Linked DNA regions of Homo sapiens. The protein of the gene in region 1 interacts with the protein of each later gene in a pairwise test. Each region holds a gene or a part of one and is shown on either strand. Other genes may lie near its edges.

Evidence for each region.
Region 2: the proteins of PRR20D (region 1) and TBX3 interact in a two-hybrid assay, tested with the Homo sapiens proteins (one large-scale study listed by BioGRID).
Region 3: the proteins of PRR20D (region 1) and ZNF385C interact in a two-hybrid assay, tested with the Homo sapiens proteins (one large-scale study listed by BioGRID).
Region 4: the proteins of PRR20D (region 1) and SMAP1 interact in a two-hybrid assay, tested with the Homo sapiens proteins (one large-scale study listed by BioGRID).

What each region holds. Positions count from the first base shown.
Region 1 is NC_000013.11:57,159,171-57,163,468, reverse strand, and holds the start of PRR20D (proline-rich protein 20D), read right to left. Parts: upstream 2,838-4,298; 5' UTR 2,624-2,837; intron 2,470-2,623; 5' UTR 2,451-2,469; coding exon 2,399-2,450; intron 1,378-2,398; coding exon 764-1,377; 3' UTR 1-763.
Region 2 is NC_000012.12:114,671,897-114,674,175, forward strand, and holds part of TBX3 (T-box transcription factor TBX3), read right to left. Parts: coding exon 2,269-2,279; intron 407-2,268; coding exon 1-406.
Region 3 is NC_000017.11:42,088,405-42,091,973, forward strand, and holds part of ZNF385C (zinc finger protein 385C), read right to left. Parts: intron 1-3,569.
Region 4 is NC_000006.12:70,726,883-70,730,451, reverse strand, and holds part of SMAP1 (stromal membrane-associated protein 1), read right to left. Parts: intron 1-3,569. UniProt on the Homo sapiens protein: GTPase activating protein that acts on ARF6. Plays a role in clathrin-dependent endocytosis. May play a role in erythropoiesis.

The DNA.
Region 1 (4,298 bases):
TGGTGAAACATTCAAAATATTCCCATTAAAGCCAGGAGGAAGCCAAGGACACTGCCGTCAAATTACTGATTCCTGGTTTAGCGGTTCCAGTGAGTCATGCACTCTCCTTGCTTCCGTTAACCGCCCCCCCCCCCACCCCAACACCTTTTGTCTGATTCGTCACATGTCCTTTGATCCCCTTTTTCCTCAATCTGTTTGAAATTTTACCTTCTATTCCAATTCATTTAGTGGTTCCCAAAGGGTACCCACGTTGAGACTTAAAAATGTGTCAGTCTAGATTTTTATTGCTCTTATATTCAGCCAGTCTATCGTCTCCAGGCACTAGAGAAGCACTTTAGTAACTTCTAGCTCCTTCTGAGTTTTCGCATGTCCCACATGTCTATATGAGTGTCTTCTGGAATTTTAATTCTAGGTCATCAATCCTTTTTCCAGAATCGTACTTCTCTGGACTTAAGAATACAGTTTCCTAATTTCCATGCTTAGTGATCCTTGTTGCATCCCACTTCTTCCAGGTTGTCTGGGTTGGCTTCTTCTTGGCTGAAAAACGTGACGTGTACTTTCACTGTACATGACAGTTCCATTCCAATCGCCTTGTACAGAAAGGGTGTTTGGCAGCTTGCATGTTGTAAGTTGCGTACTCCAAGTTCAGGGGAAGCTCAGGCTTCAGGTCCAGTCGGGGGAGGAGTGGAGCAGAAGTGGGGCTGGGGGGAACGTCCAGGTGGAAGGAAGGGAGGCTGGGAACAACGTGGGTGGCAGATAGTGGTCAATACGCAATGTCGGTGAGGAACACTGGGACCCCTTGCACGTAGGTGCCCTGGGGGGTTTGAATGACTTGTAAAACCGCTGAGTCACCCAGAGCCCTAAACCCGATGCAGGGATAGAGGGTCAAGACGGGTTGCCAGTCAACAGCCTGAGGCCCAGGAGCAGCGGGCGGCTCCTGAAACCCCAGCTCAGGTTGCGCCACGTCGGGGCCAGGGCCTTCCTGCACAGTTCCAGGCGGAGGACCTGTTTCAGAAAGGGAGAAGGCTGCGGTCTCCGTGATTTCCGGTTCCCCCTGGTGGCCTGGCTCTCCATGGTGGTCCAGTTGGATGTGCACGTCCGGTGCCATCAAGCCTTCTGCCCCCTGTCTCTGGCCAGCGTCCCCGCGGGGCCCAGCCCTTCTGCCACGGCCTCGCCCTGGCCGCCGGCTTCCTCCCCGGCGCCGGCCTCTCTCTGCAGGAGGGGGTGACTCTGGGCGAGCTGGGGGCTGCCGTCTGAAGGGTTTCACGTAAGCGATGGGTTTTGCGGGTTGGGCTGGCTGTGCGGGCCCATCTGCTTCCACGGAGCCTTCAGGGTCCGCAACACAGCAGCCTGGCTCTGGAGGAGGCCCACCTGAGGCTAAAAGAGAAGCGGAGCGTGAGCAGAGAGAGACAGAAGGAACTTCACCCGTCAAGCAGTTATAGGATACTTTTACAAATAAATACTCAGAGAAAAGAGGGATTTCTGAAGTTAAAATTGTGAGAGAAGAAACAAAACTCTCCACGGAAGTTGGAGAAAGAAGTTGAGAAGGTCTCCCACAGAACAAAGCAAAAACCTAAAATGATGGAAAGAAGGATGAAATATAAGAGAATTAGAGGTATGCTGTGGCTGAGACATTTCACCAGAAAATTTCAGAGTGCTGAGGAAAAAGAGAAGATTCTAACAGATTCTAGAGAGCGGGAGACAGAGAAAGGAAAAGTCACATGGAAAGGGCTAGGATTCCACATGTCTCAAAAGTCAGACATCTCAAAAGCAGCAGTTCAGTCTAGAACATAACAGAAAATGTCTTCGAAATTTCAAGGGAAATGAATTTCCCACCTAAAATTTCCTGTCCAACCGAAGTTTCGCTGAAGAATCTGGGAGGGGAGAATGAAGATGTTTCAGACAAGCAAGATGTTAAAGAATTTCCTTTCAGTGGATGCTTTATTGTTATGCATCTGTCAAACTAGACAAGATTAAAAGATTTAGGACACTCAGCGTATGAAGGGAAAAGTTTTGGAGAACAACGTGGCAACAGCCGGAAAATTCCAACTCCTCCGGGAAAGAACAAGGTGGAAGTACCGGTTTATCATAGATCAAGACGTAGCGTGAGGACTCGCTCTGCTACGGAGAAACAGTAATACAAAACTAAACAGAAGGAAACAGCGACAACAACAGCAAATCTCAGATTTGGGAAATGGGATTACGGTTCGGAAGAGGGAAAGGAATTTCCCAGATGATGTGGAACCCGGGAGCTGACTTCCAACAAGCAGCCCAGGTTGAGGCAGGCTAGGAGAAGGTGAAACAGAGAATGCTTGATTGAGTTTGAGTGTCAACCATTGGGGAAGAATTGGGGAACAGACGAAATTAAAAAGAGAGGAGTGGCAGGCGTTTGATGTACCTTGATTAGGGGCCATGGAGCGAAGTCGCTTCGAAGGCCTTGGTTCCTCCATGAGCAATCGGCGGGAGGGGCTGGGGAGAAAAACAAGAGAGCAAGAACGGATTTAGGAAGACAGAGGTGACAAGGCAGGGGGATGGCCGTGGCCTTTCTAGGGGAATGAGGATTCTGTCCCCAACTGCACCCACCCGAGATCCGTCCACGCCTCCGGGACCCCCAGACACACACCTGATCTTCCCACAGCTGGCTCCGGAGATCTGAAAATTAGGAGACTCTTCGACGAAGAGAGGCCCGAGGAGTCGGAGGTGTCCACAGGTTCACCGCTGTAGCTCTGAGGTAGTCCACCCGCAGCCAGGGAGTCTGGAGGGAGCACGCAGCAGGTTCTGGCTCCGAGCCCAGCAGAAAGCCGACTGCTGGAGGCCGAGCGCCGTCCCTCTTATATGGCAGCAAGGCAGTCGCGTAAGGGACAGGCGTCGTCAGAGGGGGGCCGGCTGGGGCGGGCCTGGCTGGGCTTGCGAGGCGCATTGGGCCAGTCCCCTGCCAGTCAAATGGGGGCCCTTCTGAGATGCCGCCATTTCTAGACGTCCGTGGTTGATTGATTAATCTAATCATCGAGGAAAAAAAATTGCATAATGACCTCTGAGTGTCAGCACAATGAGGTGTGGTGCCCTGAAAGCGGCTGACAGGAAGATGCGATTAGCTTAGATCTGAGCATGGTCAAGGAAAGCATCCAAAGCGGGGATATCTGGGCTGAAATCTGGAACATAACGTTTGAAATTAGTCATCCTGAACCGGGTTGGGAGAGGCAGGGAGGGAGGAAGGGGAGTGAAGAGAGTGTGCTGAGGCCCGGACTGGAAGGGAGCCCGGCACATTCTGGGAATGGACGGGAGGCCAAGTCCAGGCCCGGAGGTGGTGCGAGGTGGAGGCAGGGTCCGCGCAGGAGCTGGTCTTGTTCCAAGGCAGCGGAAAACCGTGGAACGGTGTCCGGCAGCGGGTTAACATTTCAGAAACGACCAGCCTGGCTGTGAAGGAGCGCCAACCCAGGGTCCGCAGAATAAGTCAGGAGAGGCAAGAAGGCTATTGCAGCCCTCGGGGTTGGGCGCAGGGTGCTGTTAGACTGAGACTCAGGGAGGTAGAGGAGGAGAAAGTTCCCTGGTGGGAGAGAAATTTCCAAGAGAAAGCGAGACCCAGTGTGGACAGCCCTTGAGGAAGAGACTGCGGCCTTGGTAGCCCGCCGGTTCATTCAGGCAGAGGTGGACCGAGAACCTGCTCTGAACGGGAAGTTGCGGAGCTTGGCTTGCGCACATCTGGTTGAAGGGGCTTTTGAACTGCCAAGTGAGGATGTCAAGTGGCCTTTTGTAAAAAGAGTCGAGCTCAGCGCGATGGCGACGGGGCTGGAGATGCGTGTGAGACCCACACCGCTGGCTTTTATTGCTGTGGGTGCACTCACGGGTGGAGGAAGACAGCGGGAAACACAGCAGGACGCTGGAGGGGATCCCACAGTGGGTTATTTGGTTGGTTTGCATCCTTGTGTCTTTTACAGAGACGGGTTCTCGCTCTGTAGCCCAGGCTGGAGTGCAGCGGTGCCATCTCGGCTCGCTGCGGCTACTTGGGGGGGGGGGGGGGGGGGGGGGGGGGCTGAGATAGGAGAATCAGTTCAAGTGATTCTCCTGTCTCGGCCTCCGGAGTAGCTGGACTACAGGTGAGCGCCACCACATCGGGATAATTTTCGGATTTTTTTGGAGAGACGAGGTTTCGCTATGTGCCCAGGCTTGTTTGGAAGGCCTGAGCTCAAGCCGTCCGTCCCGCTCAACCTCCCGAGTCGCTGGGACCCCAGGCGCAAGCCACCATGCCGGGCCAATTATTTTTTTGGGTTGTATTTCCTGTTGAAGTGAGGTTTTGC
Region 2 (2,279 bases), on another chromosome or scaffold:
GCTGGATGCTCTGCAGTTCGCTGGTGGCCGCCTCTTTCTCCGCGCAGAGTTTGGGCGACAAGGACATGGAGCTGGAGGAGAGCGTGGAGGAGCGGCTGTTGAGTTCAGAGCCCGAGTCCACTGCCACCGAGGCCGGGCTGGCGGCCAGGGCGGCGACTTTGCCGTCCAGGGGCCCCGCGGCCGCCGCCATGGAGGGCAGGGCGGTGGTGAGCAGACTGCTGCCGTCCGGGACCGGCACCGGGATGGAGTAGGGGCTGTAGCGCAGCCGCGGGCGCATGGTGTTCAGATTGAGGAAGGGGTGGCGGTGCACCGAGCTGGAGGCTGCCGCAGAGGAGGCGGCCGCCGCTGCGGCCATGTACGTGTAGGGGTAAGGGAACAGGCTTCCGAAAGGGGACATGGCCAGGCCCTGGGGTGAGAAAAGAGACACACAGCGAGTCAGCCGGGTGGGAGGAGCTTATCTCATCCCTCTCCTCTCTTCTCCCCCTCCAACATTGGGCAAGCCATGAATCCCTGGTATGTTCTGTTGTTGTTGTTGTTGTGTTTTTTTTTTTGGGGGGGGAGATAGGTGGGGGCAGGAGAGAAGTCAACACTCAGAAATCTCTAGGTACAAATCTTAGCTGTGTCACCCTAGGCCAAGAGACTTTGATTAACTTGTGCCTCAGCTTCCTTATAGGAAGAAAAAACAGGGAAATCATAAGTAATTCATATACTTATTGAGGACTTTGTAGATATTAAATGAGTGAAAGCCTGCAATATGCTGCACACAGTGTGTGCAGCCCCCAGGAAATCTCCTTGCACCTGTTAAATGGGGATACAGATTCAGTTTACCCCACAGAGGTAACCAAGGGGAAGCCGGAGGACATAAATTAGTAGGAATAATTTTTTAAATCTTTCTTCTTCCCCAACCCCCATCCTCCCACCCCAATCCTAGAAGTTTCTCCAAACAAAACAAAACAAAACAAAAAAAACAGACAGTGAAGATCTTAAGCAAAAGGAAACTGGGGCTGGGGGAGGGAAAAAGGGCATTTGTTATAAACAGAGACAAAGAAATCGTCCAGCATGATTCACTGGTGTTCCAGGTGAGAAGCCGAGGTAGGCCGCAGGAGTTCAGGAGTGCACTAAGCTGGGAATTGGCAGAAGCAGCATTTAAGATGCAGGCACCCTGGCCTGGGCCAGTTCTCTGCATCATGCCTTGAGGTGCCCTTAAGGTTTTGTCTGTTCAGGTAGTCCTTGGTGTACCAACCACCTGCCCACCTAGGACAGGGTCTCCCGGAGAAGCCAGCAGAGGAGATGGGAGGAATTGAGAAATGCCAGAAGCCAAGCCTTTCCTCAGCTCCCTCCTCCCTGGAGTGGGGAGGCCAATCTGGTTTCTTGGCGCAGGGAAGGGAGACCAGACGAATGTGCTCAGACAAAACAAAAGGCAACAGCATGCAAAACCTCATAGAACCTTTTCATCGAGTTCAGGGTGTTTCCAGCCGCCTGAGACCTCCCCCCAGCACAGCTGTCTGAGCCACACACAGGCCTCCAGGCCTGCCCCAGTCCCTGCTTATCCCTGTCCTCTGACATTTCCCACGTGTGCACAAACCATTAACCCTTCGAGGAATAGGCTGGCCTGCTTGGGGTTGGGGGTGGGGAGAAGAGCTTCGAACTGGGAGGAAAGGCTGGAGGAATCAAGACTGAACTCCTACTCAGGAAGTAGTCACTTCCCCTCCCCAGGCCTAGAGTCCCATTCCTGGGGAAGGGTTGGCTATGAGACACTTAAGAGACATGTCAGCTCTGAAGCTAAAATCAGAAACCCTCAAAGAGGCCCTGGAGTCAGATAGCCTGGGGTTGAGTCTCAGCTCCACCATGTACCCGCTGTGTGACCTTGGACAAGTCACTCAACATCTCTGGGCGTCTTCGCCTTCATCTGTAAAGTGGAGGTGATAATAGTACCCCTGAAGGGTTAGGTCAAATGAGTCAATACAGAGCAAGCACTTAGAAGAATGCCTGAAAGTAAGTGCTGTGTCCAGCTGTTATCTTTGTTACTACCTATCTACTCTGCTGGAAACAGCCTTTAACTTCGGAAAAATTTTAAAGATTTTTGGGGTGAATGGGGAGAATGAAGTCATAATAACTCCATGAGCTAAGCCTTGAACCCGGTAATGGCTCAGTAAAAATTATTACAGCTACTAGGCCAAAGGGATCGGGTGAGGGTCTGCTGGCAAAGGACAGGGAAACTGGACGAAAGGTGGAAAGACTGGTGGAGGCAGGAAGAAGGATCCATACCTGAGAGGCCA
Region 3 (3,569 bases), on another chromosome or scaffold:
CCCTTTGTCTCCCTGCCCAGTGTCACACCCAGAGGGCGGAGCACCGCCGGACAAGCGCCCTGTGTCTGGGTCTGTTTCACCGCCAGGTCTGCGGCCGCCTGGGCGGCTCCAGCCACGGGACTCGAGGTAGGTGGATCCCAGGGCCATTCCCATCCCTTCCATCCCCCACCCCAACCTCAGCAGGGCATCCCTGACTCTCCCTCAGTGCAAAGAAGGAGAAACCTCCAAGGGAAACGCCCCAGTTCTTGGTCTCGACTCTGTACAAACTCCAAGTGGCCAGAGCCTGGGTGTTGGGGGGAAGAGCTCCAAGCTGCCTCAAATACCAGAAGCAGGGAGCTAAGGGTGTGGGAATGGCAGCAAGGGCATTCTGCATGTTGCAGGAGGGCTGCGGTGGGATCCTGGGGAGTGGGACAGAGATTACCCTGCCCTTTTTTACCCCATACTCTATCTGTAACCCGTCACCCAGGCTGGAGTGCAGTGGTGCGATCACAGCTCACTGCACCCTCGACCTCCTGGCCTCAAGCGATCCTCCCGCCTTGGCCTCTCAACACACTGGGACTACAGGCACACGCATCACCATGCCTGGCCCGGTTCACTTCTCTTTACCACCTGGATTGGCAGAACAGCCACCTCACTGGTCTCCCTGCCTCTACTTCCCCACTTCCTCTCCCTCCCAGTCCCATCTTCACACAGCCAGAGGGAGACTATTAAAAGGGCAACTCTCCAGCCTGGGCAACTCCATCTCTACAAAAAATACAAAAATTAGCTGGGTGTGGTGGTGCACACCTATAGTCCCAGCTACTCAGGAGGCTGAGGTGGGAGGATAGCTTGAACCTGGGAGGTCGAGGCTGCAGTGAGCCGTGATCACACCACCACACTCCAGCCTAGGGGACAGAATAAGACCCTGTCTCTAAATAAATAAATAAATAAATAAATAAAAATAAAGGCAAATCTGATCAAGTCATGCTCTGGGATAAAAGCTCTAAAGGCTTCACCCTTTGCTTTAGGAGAATGCTTGCCCCAGCCTGGAAGATCCGGGCCTTTCCCCTCCCCCAAGCCCTTCTCTCCCAGTCCACCCCTTCCACCTGATTCCTCCCACAGATCAACTGAGATATAAATACAACTCTCCACCTAAAAATATTACGGGTAGAAGTAACACTGAGGATGGCTAGAAATGGATATAAGAAAACTCATTATTGACTAAAATGCACAAAAGAATCAAATCTTGACCACGAATCTTTTTTTTTGGTTTTAATTTAAATCTTCCAAAATGGAATGGGGTTACCCAGTCAATCACACAATGGCAGAAACTCGTGTCAAGAGCCTGCAGCCCCCACACTGATGGATGCCTCCAATCTCAGCAGCAGAATGTGTACGGAATCGATGCCGATGAAAACAGTTTCAGTAAAATTACAAAAGAATGAAAAACATGGACATTTGTTTAACTGTACTACAGGGGAAAAACAAAAATCTGATCAAAGAATTAAGTTGGATGAATAGAGTTCAAGCTGGAGAACACCTTCTTAAAACATTTTCAGGGTTAGTATGTTTTGGTTTAAAATGTTTGCATTCAAAACATCCTTCGGGTCAAAATATCCGTAGTGGTTAAAATATCCTGTGTCCCTCTGATCTGTTTCCTATAACTCCCCACCTTCCAGCCACACTGGGCTCTTTCTGTCCCTGGAGCACAGCGAGTTTCCCCTCACTTGGGAGCTTTCTCAAAGCCTGTTCTCTCTGCCTTGAGTGCTCTTTTCCTTCTGACCCCTCCCTCCTCCTTCTCATGGCTGATATTTAACTATCACCTCTGAAAGACGCCTTCCTGCATTGCTCTCTCTAGGGTAGTTTTCCTTCCTTCCCATTTCCTCTTATTCCCTTTTTTTTTTTTTTTTTTTTTTTTTTTGAGATGGAGTCTCGTTCTGTCGCCCAGGCTGGAGTGCAATTGCGCGATCTCGGCTCACTGCAACCTCCACCTCCCAGGTTCAAGCGATTCTCCTGCTTCAGCCTCCCGAGTAGCTGGGATTACAGGCTTGCGCCATCACGCACTAATTTTTGTATTTTTAATTAGTGATGGGTTTTCACCATGTTGGCCAGGCTGGTCTCGAACTCCTGACCCCAAGTGATCCACCCACCTTGGTCTCCCAAAGTGCTGGGATTACAGACGTGAGCCACCACACCCAGCCTCTTATTCCCTCTTGAGAACCTATCTTAGGCTGGGCACGGTGGCTCACGCCTGTAATCCCAGCACTTTGGGAAGCAGAGGCGGGCGGATCACGAGGTCAGGAGATCGAGACCATGGTGAAACCCCATCTCTACTAAAAATACAAAAAATTAGCTGGGCACAGTGGTGGGCACCTGTAGTCCCAGCTACTCGGGAGGCTGAGGCAGGAGAATGGCGTGAACCCGGAAGGCGGAGCTTGCAGTGAGCCGAGATCCTGCCACTGCACTCCAGCCTGGGCGACAGAGCGAGACTCCGTCTCAAAAAAAAGAGAACCTATCTTGTTCCCTCTTGGAACCCTGTCTTGTTCCTCCTGAATTCCCAGGGCAGAGGCTAGCAAGTATAACACATAGTAGGTGCTCCATAAATATTGGTTAAATGAATGAGTAAATCAGTGTCACTGGGATGAGAGCTAGGACAGTAGGCTGGGGCTTGGGGGTAGGGGCTGGGACAGGGTAGAGACACACCCACTTATGACATCAAGTTCCAAGGAAGCCCATTTCAGTGGGAGAACAAAGAGAAGACTGGCTGCGCATGGTGGCATTACAGGCATGAGCCTGTAATCCTAGCACTTTGGGAGGCTGAGGCAGGAGGATCGCTTGAGCCCAGGAGTTTGAAACCAATCTGGGCAACAGAGGGAGACCCCTGTCTCTACAGAAAATGTAACAAAATTATCCAGGTGTGTGCCTGTAGTCCCAGCTATTCGTGAGGCTCTGGACTGAGGGCTGGGGTGGGAGGATTGCTTGGGCCTGGGAGGCGGAGGCTGCGGTGAGCTGTTATCGCACCACTGTACTCCAGCCTGGGTGGCAGAGCGAGACTTCATCTCAAACAAAAAAGAAAAGAGGATACAAAACCAGTCCTGCTCCTGATTTTTGCCCTATGCCCAGCTTCCCAAGGGTCAGGCCCATGTGCCAAATGGACAGCTCCCCCTCCACCCCTTCATCTAGGCCACCTTCTTGGGGCTTGGCTCCCACGTGTGGCTTCAGGCCAGGCTATTTGGGGAAACTTCCTGATCCCCCCTCTGGCCTCTCCACCCCCACACCTCATCTTGCAGACCCAGAATAGCTGTCCCCAGTCTCAACCTAGGGAGAGTCTCATTCCCAATTAGCACCCAGAGGGTTGAAACCATCTCTAAAAGCTTCTTGTGTCCCTCTCCCCTCAGGAAGCTGCTAACTAGGACAGCAAATTTCAGAATAAGGTCACAAGAATGCTACCTGCCCCTATATTCACCTCCCAGCCAGAGACTCAGGGACCAGGAGTCTTGGTGTGTGAAGGTAGAGGAGCTTTGGGTGAGGGGGAGATTCAGGAAGAGCCAGGGGTGACTGCAGCCTGTGACTCTTTTAATCAAAGGAGC
Region 4 (3,569 bases), on another chromosome or scaffold:
ACATTAAGGTAAATAGTTACAGAGCAATAGCTGGAGGGTTTAATTATTTTTAGCAAGTAAGTCTCAAACTAAGAAAGGTTAAACAGATATGCAGTGGGCCAGAAACAGTGGCTCACACCTATAATCCCTGCACTTGGGAAGCCAAGGTGAGAGGATAACTTGAGGCCAGGAGTTTTGAGACCAGCCTGGGTAACATAGTGAAACCACAGTGGTCTCTAATAAAAATTGAAAACTACACACCACACGTAGTGGTGAGTGCCTGCAGGTCTAACTACTTGGGAGGCTGAGGCAGAAGGATAGCTTGAGCCCAGGAGTTCAAAGGTCCTTTGAGCTATGGTGGTACCACCGCACTCTAGTCAGAAAAAAAAGGAGGGTCAGGGGGAGAAGGGAGAGAGAAGGGAAGCAGAAATGCACAGTGAATTCTAGATCAGTGTCTCTCAAACCCTAATGTGCATGCACATCAACTGGAAATATCATGAAAATGAAGACTCTTAATTCTGTGACCCCCAGAGTAGCTCCTAAGGTTCTGCATTCTAACAAGTTCCCAGTGATGCCCATGCTGCCATCCACAGATGACATTTTGAAGAGCAAGGTTCTAGAGCATTCTCCACAATCTTTAACTCAAGCATTCAACACACTTCCTGATTTGCTTTCACATAACTAACGTAATTAAGGGACTGATAAATGTGGCAGCAGTAAGAATGGAAACGAACAAATATGAAATCACCAGGAAGAACTGACAGGGCTTACTCATAGAAAATACAGTGGCAAAGGAGAAGGTAGAGGCCAAAATGCAAGTTCTGCACCTAGGATATAAAGCATGAGGGTCCTCGTGGAGTCAGAAAACTGCAGGAGATCCATTGAATGCTTTAAATGATAGTGATACACCAAGATGAAAATGTCTGGCAGGCGATTTAGAATATAGGACTAAAGTTCAAACTGGATACATACACACATACACACACACACACACACACACACACACACACACAACCTTCTTTTTTTTTTTTTTTGAGACGGAGTCTCGCTCTGTTGCCCAGGCTGGAGTGCAGTGGCGTGATCTCGGCTCACTGCAAGCTCCACCTCCCAGGTTCATGCCATTCTCCTGCCTCAGCCTCCTGAGTAGCTGGGACTACAGGCGCCCGCCACTTCGCCCAGCTAATTTTTTGTATTTTTAGTAGAGACGGGGTTTCACCATGTTAGCCAGGATGGTCTTGATCTCCTGACCTCGTGATCCGCCCGCCTCGGCCTCCCAAAGTGCTGGGATTACAGGCATGAGCCATCACGCCCAGCCTCACACCTTCTTTTAAGATGAGAGTTGCAGTATCAAGAACAAAAAGAGCAAAAAAGCACAGTACTAAATCTTAGGGAGAAAATGAAAGGCAGTAAAAGTAGAGAATGAGGTCGTTTCAAAGAAAAGCTGTTTTCAAAAACAGGGAAAAAAAAAAGATGTTCAATAGTATCAAATATTCCAAAGAAGTCAAGAGTAATTGGGCTAAGAAAGAACATCTGGATGTGGTAACTGAGGCTGAAAAGTATTAGGTAACCTCAGAGATTAGGCAGAGCAAAAGGGAGGGAGCTCATCCACTCTGAATTCATTATCAGAAGAAGAGGGAGAAAGATAATTCACCCAATCTGAATTCCATTACCAGTTTACACTCTCGCACCATTTCAGTTTCCAACTCCAAACCTTTAACAGTTTCCTGTTTTCCTCTATATTAGATTATAGGAAATATTTATCTCCTGTAAATGTCTACACTCATAACAGCATGTGACACAGAATGTGCCACAATAGGCATCTACTCTTTTTTCATTTGTAATTAGTTCTGTCTCCTAAAGTAGATGGTAAAGTTCTCACTAGGAAGGCTCTTATATAACCTTCTGTATCACCTACAGTAAGGGAATCGACTGTATAATTTTAAAAATCTGCTAGATCTGATGACTCAGTCAAATACTCAAATGTTTTGATTCCTGAACAACTGATCTACTATTTTTAAAAATGGAAATAAATCTGAAAATTATGGCAAAAATCACTATCTTTAATATCAATTTTCCCATTCTTCCTTTAAGTAATAAAGGCTTCTGAATTTTACCTAGAAATGTGGCTGTCCTGATAGGAAGACTACATTTCTCAGCCTCTCCTGTAGAATGTAAACAGAAATGATATATTTTGCCATTAACCACACTGGGCCTGTGTTCCCCTGGCCTCTTCCCCTTTTCCATTTGCTAGGAGACAATAAGGAATGAACCTGCAACCTTGGATCCAATTACAAAAGCCCCATGGTGAAGATGACAGAACTACTCTACCCATACTGGACAGTTCATGTCCAGACCAATGTGAAGGAGAAATAAACTTCTACCCTGTTTAAGCCACTTTTTTTTTTCTTTGAGACAGGGTCTCACTCTATTGCCCAGGCTGGAGTGCAGTGGTGAAGATCTTGGCTCACTGAAATCTCTGCCTCCCAGGCTCAAGTGATCCTCCCACCTCAGCCTCACAAGTAGCTAGAACTACAGGCACATACCACCACGCCCAGCTAATTTTTGTATTTTTTGTAGAGACAGGGTTTCACCATGGTGTCCAGGCTGGTCTCAAACTTCTGGGCTCAAGCATTCCACTTGCCTCAGCCTCTCAAACTGCTGGGATTACAGGTATGAGCCACACTGCACACGGTCAGTGTGAATTACATTTGAATGTTGGTAACAGCAAACAGAACACACAATAGATTTAGCAATCCCTGATTTTAGAGCCCAAATTCTAAGACGGGTTAAAGAATAATAAAAGACTTTTTCATCAAACCTGAGTTTTCTAGATCCAATTTAAATCACCAGTTATCTATTATGTGTTTATTTTGACCGAAGTATTAAACGAAGATGACAAAACACAAATCCTGCCTTCAAGGAGCTTGAACTCTAATAATCATATAATGGTTATAGTAATAAGTACAAATGACACAGGAACATAGAAGAGGTAAAAATTAATGTCAGCCAACAATATTAATGGAGGCTTTGTAGAGACAGTGGCATTTGATGTGATTATTATGTGGGTTGGGCGCAGTGGCTCACGCCTGTAATCCCAGCACTTTGGGAGACTTAGGTGGGCAGATAACTTAAGGCCAGGAATTCAAGACCAGCCTGGCCAACATGGCCAAACTCCATCTCTACTAAAAACACAAAAATTAGCTGGGCGTGTTGGTACGTGCCTGTAGTCCCAGCTACTCAGGAGGCTGAGGTGTGAGAATCGCTTGAACCCTGGAAGGCAGAGGTTGCAGTGAGCCGAGACCCTGCCAATTCACTCCAGCCTGGGTGACAGAGGGAGACGCTGTCTTTAAAAAAAAACAAAAAACAAAAAAAGACCTCAAGTTACACAGCAGGTAAAGTCTGGACAGGGTAAAGAACAAGGTACATTCTTGGTAAAATGAACAGTGCCCCCCCCATCTTGAAGAGTTTCAGCTATACTGTAATATATAGCCAAAAAATATAACATTGCAGTACCTGATGACTGCTAAGCTTTTTATTTAAATGCTAATTTAAATTTCTACACACACACACACACACACACACACACACAC